2 separate regions of the Homo sapiens genome follow, and region 2 is linked to region 1. The links come from fine-mapping of genetic effects on gene expression. A gene starts in region 1. The other region holds a variant in brackets. All regions are shown on one strand. Distances are from middle to middle. Region 1 holds the start of PEG10 (paternally expressed 10). Region 2 has its middle 100 kb from the start of PPP1R9A.

Region 1 (8,345 bases):
AGGAAATAAGTGTTAGAATATGCATTTAGGTGTTTACAGAATATGGAAGGGTAAGTTTTAAGGAAAGGATTTGGGTAGATTATGGATAATTAGCAAAAAAGAAAAAGGAAGAAGGTGGCTGGGTATTTTGGAGAAAATGTGATCTATAAATACTGCACTTATTAGAATCAGAAACAATCTGAATATTTGACTTGGGAATTTTTTTAACAAGTCAGGATTTCTTCACTACTTCAATATTTTGTGTACTGCATGATTTTCACCAGTGGAAAACTAGTGTTAGAAACTGGATACATGTTATCTTTATTTCCTTGAGGTTGTCGCTAACCAGTTTTTTCTGGTGTTGTCCCTTATTTTCAATGTCTGTGAGACAAGTGAAAATGCCACTTTGCTTAGAAATGCAATTTATCCACCATACTATAGGATAAGTAAAATACATGAAGCAAATCAACAGCTTTTAGATTTATGGCAAACTGTTGTAAAAATGGATAAAATGTTCAATACAAAGTCCACTTACTCTTTGACAACTGGAAATTGTACTTTGCTTAGAAATAAATTTTCCGTACCATACCAGAACTTAAGCCAAATACAGGTGGTAAGTCAGCAGGTTCGTAAATCCATAGCAATTGTCATTAAAAATGAATAAGGTGTCCAAATAGAAAGTCCAGTTATTATTTGACAACTGAAAATTTTACTTTGCTTAGAAATATATTTTCTCTATATTAGAAATTAAGCCAAATATATGTGGTAAGTCAGCAGATGCATAGATCTATAGCAAATTGTCATTAAAAAGGGATAAAATGTCCAAATAGAAAGTACAATTACTATTTTACAAGTGAAAATTCCAGTTTGTTTTGAAATCGTTTTCTAAAACCCTAGAACTTAAGCTAAATACATAAGGTAAATTCAACAGCTTTATAAATACATGGCAAATTTTCATTAAATGGGTAAAATGTCCAAAGAGAAAGTCTAGTTATTATCTAACAAGTGAAAATCCCACTTTGTTTTGAAATACAATTTTCTTAACATACTAGAAGTTAAATATAGGTGTTAAATCAACAGCTTCGTAGATCTACAGCAAATTCTCATAAAAATAGATAAAATGTCTAAATACGAAGCCCAGTTATTATTTGATAAAATAAATAATACACATTAACTCCTCTTTGCTGTATATGCAACCCTGTGCAAAATGGGCAGAAATAGTCAACACCAGAAATAAATATCTGAGAAAATCCAAAATTCACATAGATATTAAATATCCAAAATATGTTTAAAGTTCTTATCTATTAATTTGGTTTTGGTTTTGGTTTTGAAAATGTTTGTTGTTCTAGACAACACAAAAATGTTACCTAAAGTATTGCTCTATTAATGTTATCTTTCTGTTTTATTTTTAGTATTGTTTTGTTTTTTGGATAACAAAAAGGTTTTATCTAAATTACTTATATATTGATGCTGTTTTTTCCCTTAGAAAATTCTATTTCTAAGCAAAGTGAAAATATTTTCATATGTAGAGGAATAAAAAACTACAATATGTTAGAATAGTGAGATGGGAGAAAATTCTTCTCAGTTTTCTGGTTTTAAATATTTATGTACTAAGGTTGTTCATTTAAAATTTTAATTAAAAAATTAATATTATTTCCTTTAAAGAAAGCTCTCCAAACTTAATGTTATTTAACATTTAAAGGCTCTTTGGAAAGAAAATAATCGAGGAGAATTAATTTGATCTTGTTTTTAACTTTTAGAAAGTATTTAACTGCAATCCTATGAAAAATATTTATTGTATAGCTACCTATATATGCATAGAGAACGTCTGAAAAAGCAGACTCTATAATGTTTACTGGTGTTATTGCAGGGTGAATAGGTTACAGGTGACCTTTTCTTTAGAGTTTTCTAGGGTTTTCTCTCCTGAATTTTGTACAATGACCTGAAATTACTTTTATTATGGTAAAATACTAATTACGTTTTTTAAAAAAAGTCCTGGTTAGCATTTTGAAATGAAAAAATCAAATTGGTTCAAACTTGTTCAAACTTTTAAAGTCTTAAGATGGATTTTTGAACTTTAATTTTTCCTGCTTTTCATCTATACTGGTTTTAAATCTCAATTTTTAGAAAAATAATGTCTCAGTTAACTAGGTGAAGTAACTTTCGAATTTAAACAAACAAACAAAACTGGTAAGAATTTGACAGCGGTCACCAGAACAGTACTCTACCAAGCATAAGAAATCCTGGAATTATTCTATCTTGCAGAAGAGGGTGAACATCCTAAAGATTAAATTAAAAGGCACTTCTAAAAAGTATAATTGTGTTTACCCAACTTCCTAGGGAAATGTCTTTGTTAAAAAGCTGCATTTCATTCATTCATATTCCGGATAGTGGGCATTTTCTAATAAAAAGTAAAATCTCAGTAAATGGGCTACAGTTTTGTTTATTCCTAGAAAGGCTCTCTTTTAAAGTGCGGTGTCTGCAACGTTGTTATGACAATAAGTCAAATTCTTATTGATATTCCAAGTATAAAATAATCCGTAGCAATGTTACTAAAATGTGCTCAATTTTGCTCTTCAAATATGAAAGCGTTTCATCTGTGTTTCAGAAACCTAACTCAGCTGTAGACAATTTGGTTTTCCCTTTTAACTTAAACTTGTTTTACTAAGATCATCAACAGATTGTCAGTTTCCCAAGCACCTGACACTGAGGCGCTTAGATGGGAATCCGCGTTAAGGTTTTATTTAGCATCCTTCCTCATCAGAATTTTAGCGTCTTATCAGCCACTGCAATTTTCCCTGACATAAAATATATATGTTCATAGTACAAATGCACGCAAATATTTGTGGCCGAATCTCGGCAACCCGCTGGAAAGGATTAAACGTGCGGTTGCCGTGACTAAACGCATTCATTCACCCTACAAGATTTAGGAAAATGTAACGTTGCAAGGGAAGCAAGGTCTCTGTGTAAACCTCGTAATCGCCACCAAAAGTCGGTAGCTGGGAGCCTTCAAAGCCCGCCAAACACACTGGAAGCATCCACAGCTGTTTTAAATTGGTTTTGGTTTCTGGAAATAGCGCACTCGGTACGGCAGCATCTCTGGCCTCCAGCCGGGGTTAACCCTGACCTGAACGCCCTGTTTAGCTCCCAGCATTTCATGATTCCGCTTCCCTGCTCCGTAAAACCGAAGAAAACCGAGATTTCCGTCACCGAGAAATGCACTTAGCAAGAGGGGGAAATTCGGTGTTTTAAATGTCACATTTTTGTGTTCTCTACCACTATCAAGAAAAGGAAAAAAGATGTGTTTGTGTAGCGGGGACGCAGCTTGACACCCATTTCCTTTGGCTCGCATCGCGGTCGCAGAGCCCAATCGCGGGGAAACGGGCCCCCCAGAAAAACAGGCAACGACCCCCAGCTCTTTGCTACAGGGATCGGGAGAGGACTACCCTGGGGCTGGGCGGGGAGGGGGATGTTGGGAACAGGAATTGGAGATGGAATTTCTGCGCCCGCAGAGCAGGGAGGGGCCCGCGGGGGCGCGGAGAGGAAAAAAAGGCCAGGGGTCAAGCCTGGGGAGAGAGAAGCTGGGCCGGGGAAATGGGGTACAGGGTGTACTGAAGGAGGGGTACGGTGGGGTCCGGGACAGAAAGAGAGGCTGGTGCCCAAAGGGCGCGCTCAGGCGCCCGGAACCCGAGCGGGGGAGGGGGAGGCGGCGGCCTGTTGGCCCCGGGACCTCCACGTCGCGCGCAGGCCACTAACCTGTCAGCAAGAATGTGCCAGTGGTCGCGGGGCTCATCCTGCGTGTCCCCCGACCCTGTCCCGTCCAAGCACAGGGGTCTCCCAGCTCCCACCACCGGGGCAATTGCATTCTTGGCCTGGCTAGGCCGTCCGTCCTCGATTCTCCCCTCCCCTCCCTTTCTTCTTCCCTCCCAGCTTGGCCAGTTCAGCATCAGCATCCCGCACCCCCTCGGTAATCCCGTACTCCCTCTAGCGGCGGGCCACTGCAGCGTGGCCACCGCCCCCACCCCCATCCCCCATCCCCGCACCCCCCTCCACCCCCTAGCCCGCGGAGCACGCTGGGATTTGGCGCCCCCCTCCTCGGTGCAACCTATATAAGGCTCACAGTCTGCGCTCCTGGTACACGCGCTTCAACTTCGGTTGGTGTGTGTCGAAGAAACCTGACTGCGCCCTGAGGAGAACAGCGGAGAAGGTCCACCGAGCCTGGCGAAAGGTCCGCTGAGCGGGCTGTCGTCCGGAGCCACTCCGGGCTGCGGAGCACCCAGTGGAGACCGCGCCTGGCTCAGGTGTGGGACCCCATCCTTCCTGTCTTCGCAGAGGAGTCCTCGCGTGGTGAGTATGCGGTGAGGACGTTTTTTTTTTAAAGATCACGTTCATTCCCCGTGCTTATCGGGAGCTGCGGGAGATGGAGTAGCACCCCAGAATGTCTCCACGCAAAACTTGTCACGCCTTCACTGGCTGTACCCCAAAACAAATGGGGAAACCAAGCCTTAAAGGCTTGGGTTTCCAGGACCAAGTCCAGATACGGGCTGTAGACAGAGATGAGCTGCGGACAGTGATGAGCTGCAGACGGTCAGGAGCTATAGATCGATTTGCAATTTGCTCTTCAAATGCGCTACCAAGTGCCATGCTTTACAAACAGATAAGCGCTTCAAATGCGCTACAAACTGGCGCTTCAGATGCGCTACAAGCACGCTTCACGCGGGCGACAAACTGATGGGAGCTACAACTGGCGCTTCATTGCGCTATAAACTGATGGGCGCTTTATGTGCCACAAACTGACGGATGGGCGCTTCAGTGGCGCTACAATCCAGAACGAGGAGCAGCGATATAGGAGCTGCAGACAGAAAACTGAATTGCGCTTTACATGCGCTGCAAAATCTGAGCTGCAGAAGAGTAGCACTACAAAAAACGCTACAAAAACGATGCGATTAGCCAGCCCGACAACAGCGCTTCATTGCGCTGCGAGGCACATGAACTGCAGAGGTACATGAGCTGCGGAACAATTCACACCTAAGATGCACTACAAAGTGGTAAGAGCTGCAGAGGTACAGGAGCTGCAGACCGTTTGCGCTACAAATAAAGCAGCCGTAGTGGGACATGAGCTGCGGAGTACAATTCCTCTGTTTTCTTGGAGCAGGACCCCACCCTTTCACCTTTTGGAATGGCTCCCACTCTATTTTTCTGCAGGACGGTTCTCGCATGATGGTGCTGGTAGACAAAATGGAGCCCCGGGCAAAAATTAGTGTTTAACATTCTGCCCACACCATTCCCGCTATAGCAGTGGAGTGGAGGGGCACTGATTGGAGTGGAAATGGGAATCTTTTGGTGATGGCAGAGCAGGCTGCCTGCCTACTTGTGCTTGATTGAAGTGGCGGTGTAGTTGTGGTGGCGCGAATCAGCGTCCAGCAACAGTTTGTGGAAACTGTGGGTTTGCTGAGTATGGCGGGGGAATTGGATCTGTGGATTGCTCTTGCTGCATGAAATGAATCTGGCTTTGGTGACTGGTGGGAGGGGTTTGGGAGGGGGGATTCTGGCGGCGGGGGGGGGGGGTGTGCAGATACTCTGCAGCCCTGTAGCAGCCAGTCTCAGGCCTGCCCCGCCCATCCTAGTGTGCCTTCTCTGCGGTGCTTAGCGCCTCCTCCTACAGCGCCTCCTCAGAGCGCGCCTCCCCTGCAGCGCGCCTTCCCAGAGCGCGCCTTCTAGATGCGGCCTCCTCAGGCCCCTCCTCCCAGCTCCTTAGCGCCTGCCTGCCCAGGCCCCACCTCTCTCTGGCCACCTCATTCTGAGGTGAGCTGCTCAGGCCCCGCCTCTTCCAGGCCCGCCTTTTCTGTGGTGAGCTGCCCAGGCCCTGCCTCTCCCGGGCCCACCTACTCTGAGGTGAACTGTCCAGGCCCCGCCTCTCCCGGGGCCGCCCCCTCTGAGGTGAACTGCCCAGGCCCCACCTCTCCTGGGCCCGCCTCCTCTGAGGTGAACTGCCCAGGCCCCGCCTCTCCTGGGCCCGCCTCCTCTGAGGTGAACTGCCCAGACCCCACCTCTCCTGGGCCCGCCTCCTCTGAGGTGAACTGCCCAGGCCCCGCCTCTCCTGGGCCCGCCTCCTCTGAGGTGAACTGCCCAGGCCCCGCCTCTCCTGGGCCCGCCTCCTCTGATGTGAGCTCACCCAGATCCCACCTCCCCAGGCCCGCCTCCTCTTAGGTAGCCTGCTCAGGCCCCGCCTCTCCAAGGCTTGGCCCCTCCCTAAGCCTGCCTCTGCCGGGCTGGCCTATAGTCCCACCTCCCTCAGAGCCGGCTAGCACACATGCGCAGTGTGAACCCTCAGCCCCTCCCTTCAGGCGCCGGTCCTCTGCACCTGCGCACCTTCCTTGCCTGAGCCCTGGCTGTACAGCCCCGCCCCCCTGCGGTTTCTCTGCTGTGTTGGTTTTGCTTTTTGGCTACTAGAGTCTAATAGAATAATAAATAAAACAATTAACAATAATAATTATAACTGGAATTTATGAGCACTTTTAATATGTTCTTTGCATATATTCAATAACATAATCCCACAATTTAAACTCCTGATAGTGGCTTATGAAGGGACCTTGTAAACTGACATGGCTGGTGCCTCTAAAGGCAATTTAGCCAAATGTTTTTACTGCAAATGAAAACCAAAACTTAACAATTTATTTTTAAAAACTTTAAAAATATTTTCACATTTAAGGTTTTTTTAGAGGCACTAGTGGACCTTTGGGAATCGGATGTTTTGGTGGATACAAAATTGGTGCTGTTGGTTTGGCCTCTGAGTGAGGATAAGGCTTTTATTTGCGTGCCTATGAAGCTGGGTGTTTTCCTTGAATCTCTAGGTGATTAACCCTAGCCTATTTGCCTATGTATAATAAATTGTGCCTGCACATGGTAGGCATTCATTAAATATGTGTTAAATGACCAGAGTAAATTGGTTTATTCAGTGTCTTGCTTGGTGTCTGTAGGTCTCTTCTGATTTGCTCCTTTCCTATGGTGCTTTGCTGTCCTGGGTTGCCTTGTTTGCGTTATCTCTCACATTTAACAGAATAAAAAAAAAGTGTATGTGTTTTTAAACTCCAATGATATAAGCTGTAATTATAATACAAAGCAACTAAATTAATTTTAATTATTCCAAATAATTAGCTTTTTTCATAAAAAGCTAGTTATTCCAAATATTAGCTTTTTTCATGAAAAGCTAGTTATTCCAAATAATTAGCTTTTTTCATAAAAAGCTAGTTATTCCAAATAATTAGCTTTTTTCATAAAAAGCTAGTTATTCCAAATAATTAGCTTTTTTCATAAAAAGCTAGTTATTCCAAATAATTAGCTTTTTTCATAAAAAGCTAGTTATTCCAAATAATTAGCTTTTTTCATAAAAAGCTAGTTATTCCAAATAATTAGCTTTTTTCATAAAAAGCTAATTTAAATTTGGGGCAAGTGTATTATTAATGGTACATATTGTATTAAAGTTTGTGTAATGTAATATAAAGTGGCCACATTACAAAATATAGGTTGTTTCAGCTTGCAAAATTAAACAACTGTATAAAACAAATTTATAACTGATTGCTAGTAAGAGGTACCATGTAAGAATTGTGTTTCCAGCTGAATGAAGAAATTTTAAAACCTGGTTCCATATATTACAAATCATGAGCCAGGACTTTGGTAGGGGAGGAATTGGGGGCTTTGGCTCCCAAAAATCTCTGTCACATACCCCCTCCCCACCACAAGTACACAATCTATGGAAAATTTGTGCTTATCATAATTACAGCTTTAAGTAATTTTCCCTTCTCTTTGGATATTGTATATTTGCATATTGAAGAGGTTCAAAACAACAGTAATAACATGCATATTAAGAGAATTTGCATTTCATAAATAGTACAAGATAGTACTAAAAAATTGGACATTTGAAAATATGAAGCAACTAAGAGTTGCTTAATGAGATGTCATTTCCTAACAGGATGTTCATTTATGGTTTTTGGCTACTATTGCTCTTTGGTGTGTTTGTGGAATAGAAATTATTCCAAGCTATTGTGAAGAGTCAATAATTAACCAAATGTATTTATTTCCTAAAAAGACTAAAACTGAAATTATTATCATGTAAAGATGGCATCTGTCCTAGGCAACTTGGCTTTATGCAGTTTGTCCTTTCAGTTTTCAGGAATGAGACCTCTTGACCCCTCCCCTCCAATGCAGCCCCTACTAAGGGGGAGTTTAAGGAGCCATACATAGTTCTATAATTCAAATCAAGTAAACATGCTTCTTGTCCCAGGTTAACTTGTGCTGCCTCAGTCGCTGTTTAAACATTTTTATACGCACTGTTAACCTGCCTGCCCATTACCCTATTACTTTTA
Region 2 (8,345 bases), 150 kb after region 1:
TGGAGGCATCATGCTACCTGACTTCAAACTATACTACAGGGCTACAGTAACTAAAACAGCATAGAACTTGTACCAAAACAGACATATAGACCAACGGAACAGAACAGAGGCCTCAGAAATAATGCCTTACATACAACCATCTGATCTTTGACAAACCTGACAAAAACAAGCAATGGGGAAGGGATTCCCTGTTTAATAAATGGTGCTGGGAAAACTCACTAGCCATATGTAGAAAGCTGAAACTGGATCCCTTCCTTACACCTTACACAAAAATTAACTCAAGATGGATTAAAGACTTAAATGTAAGACCTAAAACCATAAAAATCCTAGAACAAAACCTAGGCAATACCATTCAGGACATAGGCATGGGCAAAGACTTCATGACTAAAACACCAAAAGCAATGGCAACAAAAGCCAAAATTGACAAATTGGATCTAATTAAACTAAAGAGCTTCTGCACAGCAAGAGAAACTATCAGCAGAGAGTACAGGCAGCCTACAGAATGGGAGAAAAATTTTGCAATCTATCCATCTGACAAAGGGCTAATATCCAGAATCTACAAAGAACTTAAACAAATTTACAAGAAAAAAACAACCCCATCAAAAAGTGGCCAAAGGATATGAACAGACACTTCTCAAAAGATATTTATGCAGCCAACAGACATACAAAAAAAAGCTCATCATCACTGGTCATCACAGAAACGCAAATCAAAGCACAATGGGATACCATCTCACGCCAGTTAGAATGGTGGTCATTAAAAAGTCAGGAAACAACAGATGCTGGAGAAGATGTGGAGAAATAGGAACGCTTTTACACTGTTGGTGGGAGTATAAATTAGTTCAAACATTGTGGAAGACAGTGTGGTGATTCCTCAAGGATCTAGAACTAGAAATACCATTTTATCCAGCAATCCCATTACTGGGTATATACCCAAAGGATTATAAATCTTGCTACTATAAAGACACATGCACATGTATGTTTATTGTGGCACTATTTACAATAGCAAAGACTTGGAACCAACCCAAATGTCCATAAATAATAGACTGGATAAAGAAAATGAGGCACATATATACCATGGAATGCTATGCAGCCATAAAAAAGGATGAGTTCATGTCCTTTTCAGGGACATGGATGAAGCTGGAAACCATCATTCTCAGCAAAATATCACAAGGACAGAAAACCAAATACCACATGTTCTCACTCATAAGTGGCAGTTGAACAATGAGAACACATGAACACAGGGAGGGGAACATCACACACTGAGGCCTGTTGGGGAGTGGGGTGATGGGTAGGGATAGCATTAGGAGAAATACCTAATGTAAGTGACGACTTGATGCGTGCAGCAAATCAAAATGGCACATGTATACCTATGTAGCAAACCTGCACGTTGGGCCCATGTACCCTAGAACTGAAAGTATAATTAAAAAAAAAAAAAAAAAGACTGGCCTGGACAACATGGTGAAAGGTTAAGGTTGCGATAAGCTGTGATCATGCCTGCACTTCAGCCTGGGCAACAGAGCAAGATGCTGTCTCAAAAAAAAAAAAAAAGTTAGGCTATTAAAACTAAAAGAGAGTCTGAAACTAAACCCATGCATCTATGGTCCTTTGACTATGAAGGTGCCCAGATAATTCAGTGAGGATAACAATAGTTCTACAATAAATGGTGCTAGAACAAATAGATATTAATATTTTTTAAAAATGCAACTTGACCCGTACTTTAAAACACACACATAAATTAAATTGGAAAGGATCACAGACTTAAACATAAAAGCAAAACTATAAAATTTTAGAAGAAAATCCTAGTGACCTTAAAATATTTTCCTTTAAAAAACACAAAAAAGCACAAAGTAGAAGATCAAAAATTGACCAAATATACTGCATCAATATTCAACATGTCTACTTGTCAAGAACTGAAGTATTGAGATACTTGACTTTATCCAACTTACAAACTAGGAAGTTACCTCTGTCCCGTGAACACTGTCACCCAGACTCCTGAGTCATCACTCATGGCACAGCAAGCAGCATGACCATTAGCATTTATCAGTTCCTTTTGCCCCCAAATCCTGCAGAAGCGAAGCAGATGGGCCCAGCTGAATGCCCAAACATGCAGTGAGTTGCATTATTGAAGAGGACCCCTGAGCTTAGGGAACTCAAATCTTTTACTATGTGCAGTAAGCATAGCTGCCCTTCAGTTCGGAAGGAGACATGCTCTTTATTATACTGGCAGTCAGCATGCCGTGCTTTGCTATGAAGGAAGACACCTTGTTTTTCTTCTATGGCTGCTTGCTATGCAAACATCCTTTAAATGATATTCCAGAGAAAAGCTCACAATAGTGTCTTGCTTAAAATAAATGAAGAAACATAACAGGCCCATGAAGAATTGCCTCCTAAAACTGTTCTTCCAAAGACCCTAACCAAATTGGATGTGAGGGTGATCTAGCTGCAACATCTGTCACCTCATTGATTGCCAGTGTTGATTTGGCTGATCTGGCTGGAAAGGCGGGTGTCCCCTTCTTCCTTTATGGCTCCATGTGCCTCCCTCCTGAAGCTGCAAGCTTGGGTTGAAGAGCATGAGCTTCTCTCACAGAGGAGGACCTTCCTTCCATCAAGAATAAATGAGTAGCTGTGTTCCCCTGCCAGAACCTCCAAACAAGGTCCAAAGACCCTGAGCAAATAAAAAGGCACAGACAAAAAATATATATATTTCAACACAAGTATATGACACAGAATATAGAAATAACTTTTCCTAATCAATCAAAATACAAGCAACCCAATTTAAAAATACGCAAAAGATTTAAATAGACATTTCACAAAAGAAGATATTTGAATGGACATGAAATACTGTTGTGAGCTGCATAATGACATTTTGGCCAACAATGTACCACATATATGATGGTGGTCCCATAAGATTATAATGAAACTGAAAAATTCCTATTGCCTGATGACATCATAGCCTTCCTAGCACAAAGTATTGCTCATGTGTTTTTGGTGTTGCTGGTGTAAACAAACCTACTTGTATAGCACATACAATTATGTATGTATATGTAACTATGTATAATACTTGATAATAATAATAAACAACCATATTGTTGGTTTATGTATTTATTTTACTGTAGTTGTCATTTTATTGATTTATTTAAAGACAAGATCTTGCTCTGTTGCCTAGGCTGGAGTGCAGCGGCACTATCGTACATAACTCATTGCAGCCTCAAACTCCTGGAAGCCAGCCTCCTGAGTAGCTAGGACTACAGATGCATGCCACCATGCCCAACTATATTTATTTAGAGATGGGGTCTCGCTATGTTGCCCAGACTGGTCTTAAAATCCTATCCTCAAGAGATCTTCCCACCTCAGCTTCCCAACACACTGGGATTACAGGTATGAGCCATTGCACCTTGCCCCTATTTTTTTTAGAATGTACTCTACTTATTTTTTAAAAAAATTGATTGTAAAACAGCCTCAGACAGGTCCTTCAGAAGATATTCCACAAGAAGGCATTACTATCACAGAGGATGCCAGCTCCACGTGTTACTGCCCTGAAGACATTCCAATGGGACAAGATGTGGAGGTAAAAGACAGTGACAGTGATAATCCCCTCCCTATGTAGGACTAGGATAATGTGTGTGTTTGTTTCTTAGTTTTTAACAGAAAAGTTTAAACAGTGAAAAAATTTATGAAAATTTTTGAACAGAAAATGTTATAGAATAAGGGTAGAAAGAAAAAATATTTTTGTATAGCTATACAGTGTGTTTGTGTTTTAAGCTAAGTGTTATTATAAGAAAGTTGAAAAGTTACAAAATTTAAATGTTTATAAAGTAAAAAAATTACAATAAGCTAAGGTTAATTTATTACTGATGAAAGAGAAATATTTTTCAATAGATTAAGTGTAGCTTACATATACAGTGTTTCTAAAGTCTACAGTAGTGTACAATAATGTCTAGGCATTTCCATTCACTCACCACTCACTTACAGACTCCCCAGAGCAAATTCCAGTCTGGGAAGCTCCATTTATGGTAAGTACCCTATACAGGTGGACCATTTTGTATTTTTGTATAATATTTTTACTATACTTTTTCTATGTTTAGATACACAAATACCTACCATTGTATTACAGTTCCCTACAGTGTTCAACACTTTAACATGCTCTACAGGTTTGTAGCCTAGGAGCAATAGGCTATACCACACAGCCTAGTGTGTAGTAGGCTATAATATCTAGGTTTGTGTAAGTACAGTCTATGATATTCGCACAACAACAAAATCACCTAATAACACACTTCTCAGGAAACATCCCTGTTGTTAAGTGATACATGACTATAAATGAAAAGATGTTCCACAACATCCTTATTCATTATAGAAATGCAAATTAAGACCACAATTTGATAACACTACCTATCCACTAGAATGGCTAAAATTGAAAACCTTAATATAAAACATTAAAAGTAATGGCAAAAACCAGGATTACTTTTGCACCCACCTAATATTACCAAATATTGATAAGAATGTGGAGCAACTGGAACATTCATAGATTGTTGGTAGAAGTTTATAATAGTAAAACCATTTTGTAAGCCTTTCTGGCAATTTTTTTTTTTTTTTGAGATGGAGTCTCACTCTGTTGCCCAGGCTAGAGTGCAGTGGTGTAATCTCAGCTCACTGCAAATCTGGCCCCCTGGTTTAAGCAATTATCCTACCTCAGCCTCCCGAGTAGCCATGATTACAGGCACCCACCACCATACCTGGCTAATTTTTTTTTTCTTTGTATTTTTAGTAAAGATG[G/A]GTTTTCGCCATGTTGGCCAGGCTGGTCTTGAACTCCTGACCTCAGGTGATCTGCCTGCCTCAACTTTCTAAAGTGCTAGGATTACAGGTGTGAGCCGCCATGCCTGGCCACCTTTTTGGCAATTTCTAATAACAATAAAAATACATCTACCTCATGACTCAGCAATTCTATTGTTAGGTATATATTTAAGAGAAATGACATATCTAATAAAAGACTCACAAAAGAATAGTACTTAAATAAGAATGTGAGTGATTAACATACCAACCCAAATCTGGAAACATCCCAAATGTCTATTGATTAGCAAATGAGTAAATTTTGATAAATTCATATACCAAAATACTATTTGGTAATTTAAAAAATTTTTAATTCAGCAATAATTCTGATACATGAATAAATTGCAAAAATATTGTGTTAAACCACAGAAGCCAGATACAAGGGAATATATACTGTATGATTACAGTTTTACCAAATTCTTGAAGAGAATTATTTTGACAGAAAGGAGATCTGGGATACTTTGCAGTTCAGGATAGAGTTTGACTTCAGAGGGGCTCAACAGATCCTTTTAGAGTAATTGAAACATTCTGAATCTTGATTATAGTGGTGGTTACGTAGTTGTATATGTTTGTCAAAACTCATTAAACTATACACTTAAAATATGCATATTTTGTTGCATGTAAATTATGTCTATATTGAGTCGATTAAAAAATCATTTAAGGATATTGTCCAGTTACATAAAAGATGACTTGAAATAATAAACTCCCTGGTAAGATTCTGAATGAAAAAAAATGTAGTGTTAAACTTTAAATACAGTGAAACATAGATTTAAATATAATCAAACCATATGGTATCTATACAAAATAAAATCAAGTTTTTACAATTACTATTATAAAGGTATTAGTGATAATAAGACATAAAGTAGTTGGAAGCAAAATTCATAATCAAATCTTAATTGCCTTGCTGTCTACAATTCAAAAATGTAATGCAACAACACTCGTTCAAGTAACAACACAAAAGCAAAAACACTTAAGCATACACTTGAAAGGAAATATAAATGACATATATAGAAATATTTTGTAATTCCACTGTGGAAAGTTAAATCAGGGTATACTTGAATAATATAAAACTAGTTTGGTTGACTATTGCTGCATTGCAAACAACCCCAAAACTAAGTAGCTTAAAATATTTATTTATCTGTGGCTTTCCTGGAGTTTAGCTGGCCTGGGAGGAATTTGGCTGGGCACGTCTGCTTTTTCCTATAATTCTGTAGGTTTGCTGGGGTGCTTCCTTTTCAGATTGTGGTAGCTGGGATGGATCTGCTTTCTAACTCTTTCATCTTCCTTCTGGGACCTAAAATAAAGCTAGATAAAGTTCTAATGGCAGTGACAAAGCTCAAGAGGGCATCCCTATGACCCAAGAGCATTTCAAATTCTGCTGCGTTACTTCTGCTAATATATTATTGACCAAAGCAATTCCACATGTTCATGGCTAAAGTCAATGGGCAGAAAAAAAAATTACCTTTCCTATGAAGGCATACAAGAGACTGCAAAGTTACATGGAAGTGTTGTGTTATGGACTGAACATTTGTGTTTCCCCTAAATGTATAAGTCAAAGCCCTAACTCCCAATATGATGATATTAAGAGGTAGATTCTTTGAAAGATAATTAGGTTTAGATAAAGTCATGAGGGTAAAGCCCCCATGATGAGATTAGTGCTCTTGTAAGAGGAAGGCAACAGCTTCCTCTTTCCACTATGTGAGGACAGAGCGAGAAGTTGGCTATCTTTAAGCAAGGAAGCAGGCTCTCACCAAGAATCAAATCTGTTGGCACCTTGATCTTGGATTTCTCAGCCTTCATAACTATGATAGAATAAATTTCTATTGTTTAAGCTGCCCAGTCTATGGTATTTTGTTATCTCATCCAAACTAGACTAAAACAGATTGTCATACAGAGGTAGTTGAATAATTGGGCCAATAATGCAATCTACCAAAAAGACTTATCTGGATTTTAGACAGAAACAGGCAGTCATTGTGGTAGTTTTAAATCACTTACACAAATTTGTTGATGCTCCTCTCATAAAGAGGAGTCCACAATCCCTCCACTTGAACCAGGGAGGACTCATCAATGAATAGAATGTGCCAGTAGAGATGCTACATGACTTCTGAGGCTTTGTTAGCAAAGGCCCCATGCTTTTAAAAAAAAAAAATCCCTCAATCCTTCTGAATAATAATTATTGTGCTAAATAAATGTGTTAATTTGCATAATATGTTAGTAAATATGTTTGGTTAGAGTGACTAAACTATATCTAATAATGAACACCTTTAATTGTGCTTACCTTCACATTTTAAAAATTGTTTTATTTACAATCTATAAACAAATTAAAAAATAGAAAAATGACTTTTGGCTTTGCTTACAGAACTCAGCTTTCAAACCATATGACTCACAATAATTAAGAATAAAATAATTGTATAAGGCCAATTTTTTCCTGATTATTGTACAAAGAAGTTGCGAGAGCTGCTTCTCTCTCTCGCAACTATATATGTGTATATACATATATAATATACACATATATATGTGTATATTATATATGTATATATGTGTGTATATATTATATACATATATGTGTGTATATATATTATATACACATATATAGTTGCGAGAGAGAGATATATATATATATAATTGCAAGAGAGAGAAGCAGGGAGCACACAGATTCATAAAGCAAATATTACTAGATCTAAAGAGAAAGATAAACTACAATACAATAATAGACCCCATTCTCAGCATAAGACAGATTAGCTAGACAGAAATTCAACTAAGAAACACTGGGTTTAAACTGGACTTCAGACCAAATGGATGTTATAGAGGTTTACAGAACATTTTATCTAACTGTCTGCATACATTCTTTTCACTAGCACATGAAACATTCATCAGGGTAGACAATATGTTAGGACACAAAACAAGTCTAAAAAATTTTGGATCAAAATTATATCAAGTATCTTCTCAGACCGCAATAGAATAAAACTAGAAATCTATCAGGGAATCTGCCCCGATACTCACGTAGGTTCTTTTCTATTTTCCTTAAGCATCGGCCAGCTTGAGAAATAAAGGGACAAAGTACAAAAGAGAGAAATTTTAAAGCTGGGCATCCAGGGGAGACATCACATGTCGGTAGGTTCCGTGATGCCCCACAAACCGCAAAAACCAGCAAGTTTTTATTAGGGAGTTTCAAAAGGAGAGGGAGTGTGCGAATAGGTGTGGGTCACAGACATCAAGTACTTTACAAGGTAATAGAATATCACAAGGCAAGTGGAGGCAGGGCGAGATCACAGGACTATAGGACCGGGGCGAAATTAAAATTGCTAATGAAGTTTTGGGCACCATTGTCATTGACATCTTATCAGGAGACAGGGTTTTGAGATCAACCAGTCTGACCAAAATTTATTAGGCGGGAATTTCCTCTTCCTAATAAGCCTGGGAGCACTATGGGAGACTGGGGTCTATTTCACCCCTGCAGTCTCGACCACAGGAGATGGCCATGCCCAGGGGATCCAGTTCAGAGACCCACCCCCAGG

The links. PIP is the estimated chance that this variant, and not a neighbour inherited with it, causes the effect.
Region 2: its variant is fine-mapped to the expression of PEG10 in tibial nerve (GTEx, PIP 0.90).

What each region holds. Positions count from the first base shown.
Region 1 is chr7:94,652,255-94,660,599 of GRCh38, forward strand. PEG10 (paternally expressed 10) reads left to right here and starts at 4,071. Exons shown (of 2, transcript NM_001172437.2): 1 at 4,071-4,337. The coding sequence starts at 4,333. SGCE (sarcoglycan epsilon) reads right to left here and starts at 3,879. Exons shown (of 11, transcript NM_003919.3): 1 at 3,736-3,879. The coding sequence starts at 3,844. RefSeq lists enhancers at 3,227-4,004, 5,274-5,323, 6,103-6,397 and a silencer at 5,794-6,033.
Region 2 is chr7:94,799,093-94,807,437 of GRCh38, forward strand. It overlaps the pseudogene RN7SKP129. Among named protein-coding and RNA genes, the nearest start is that of PPP1R9A, 100 kb to the right of the region's middle. The variant G/A (reference allele first, on the strand shown) is at 4,774.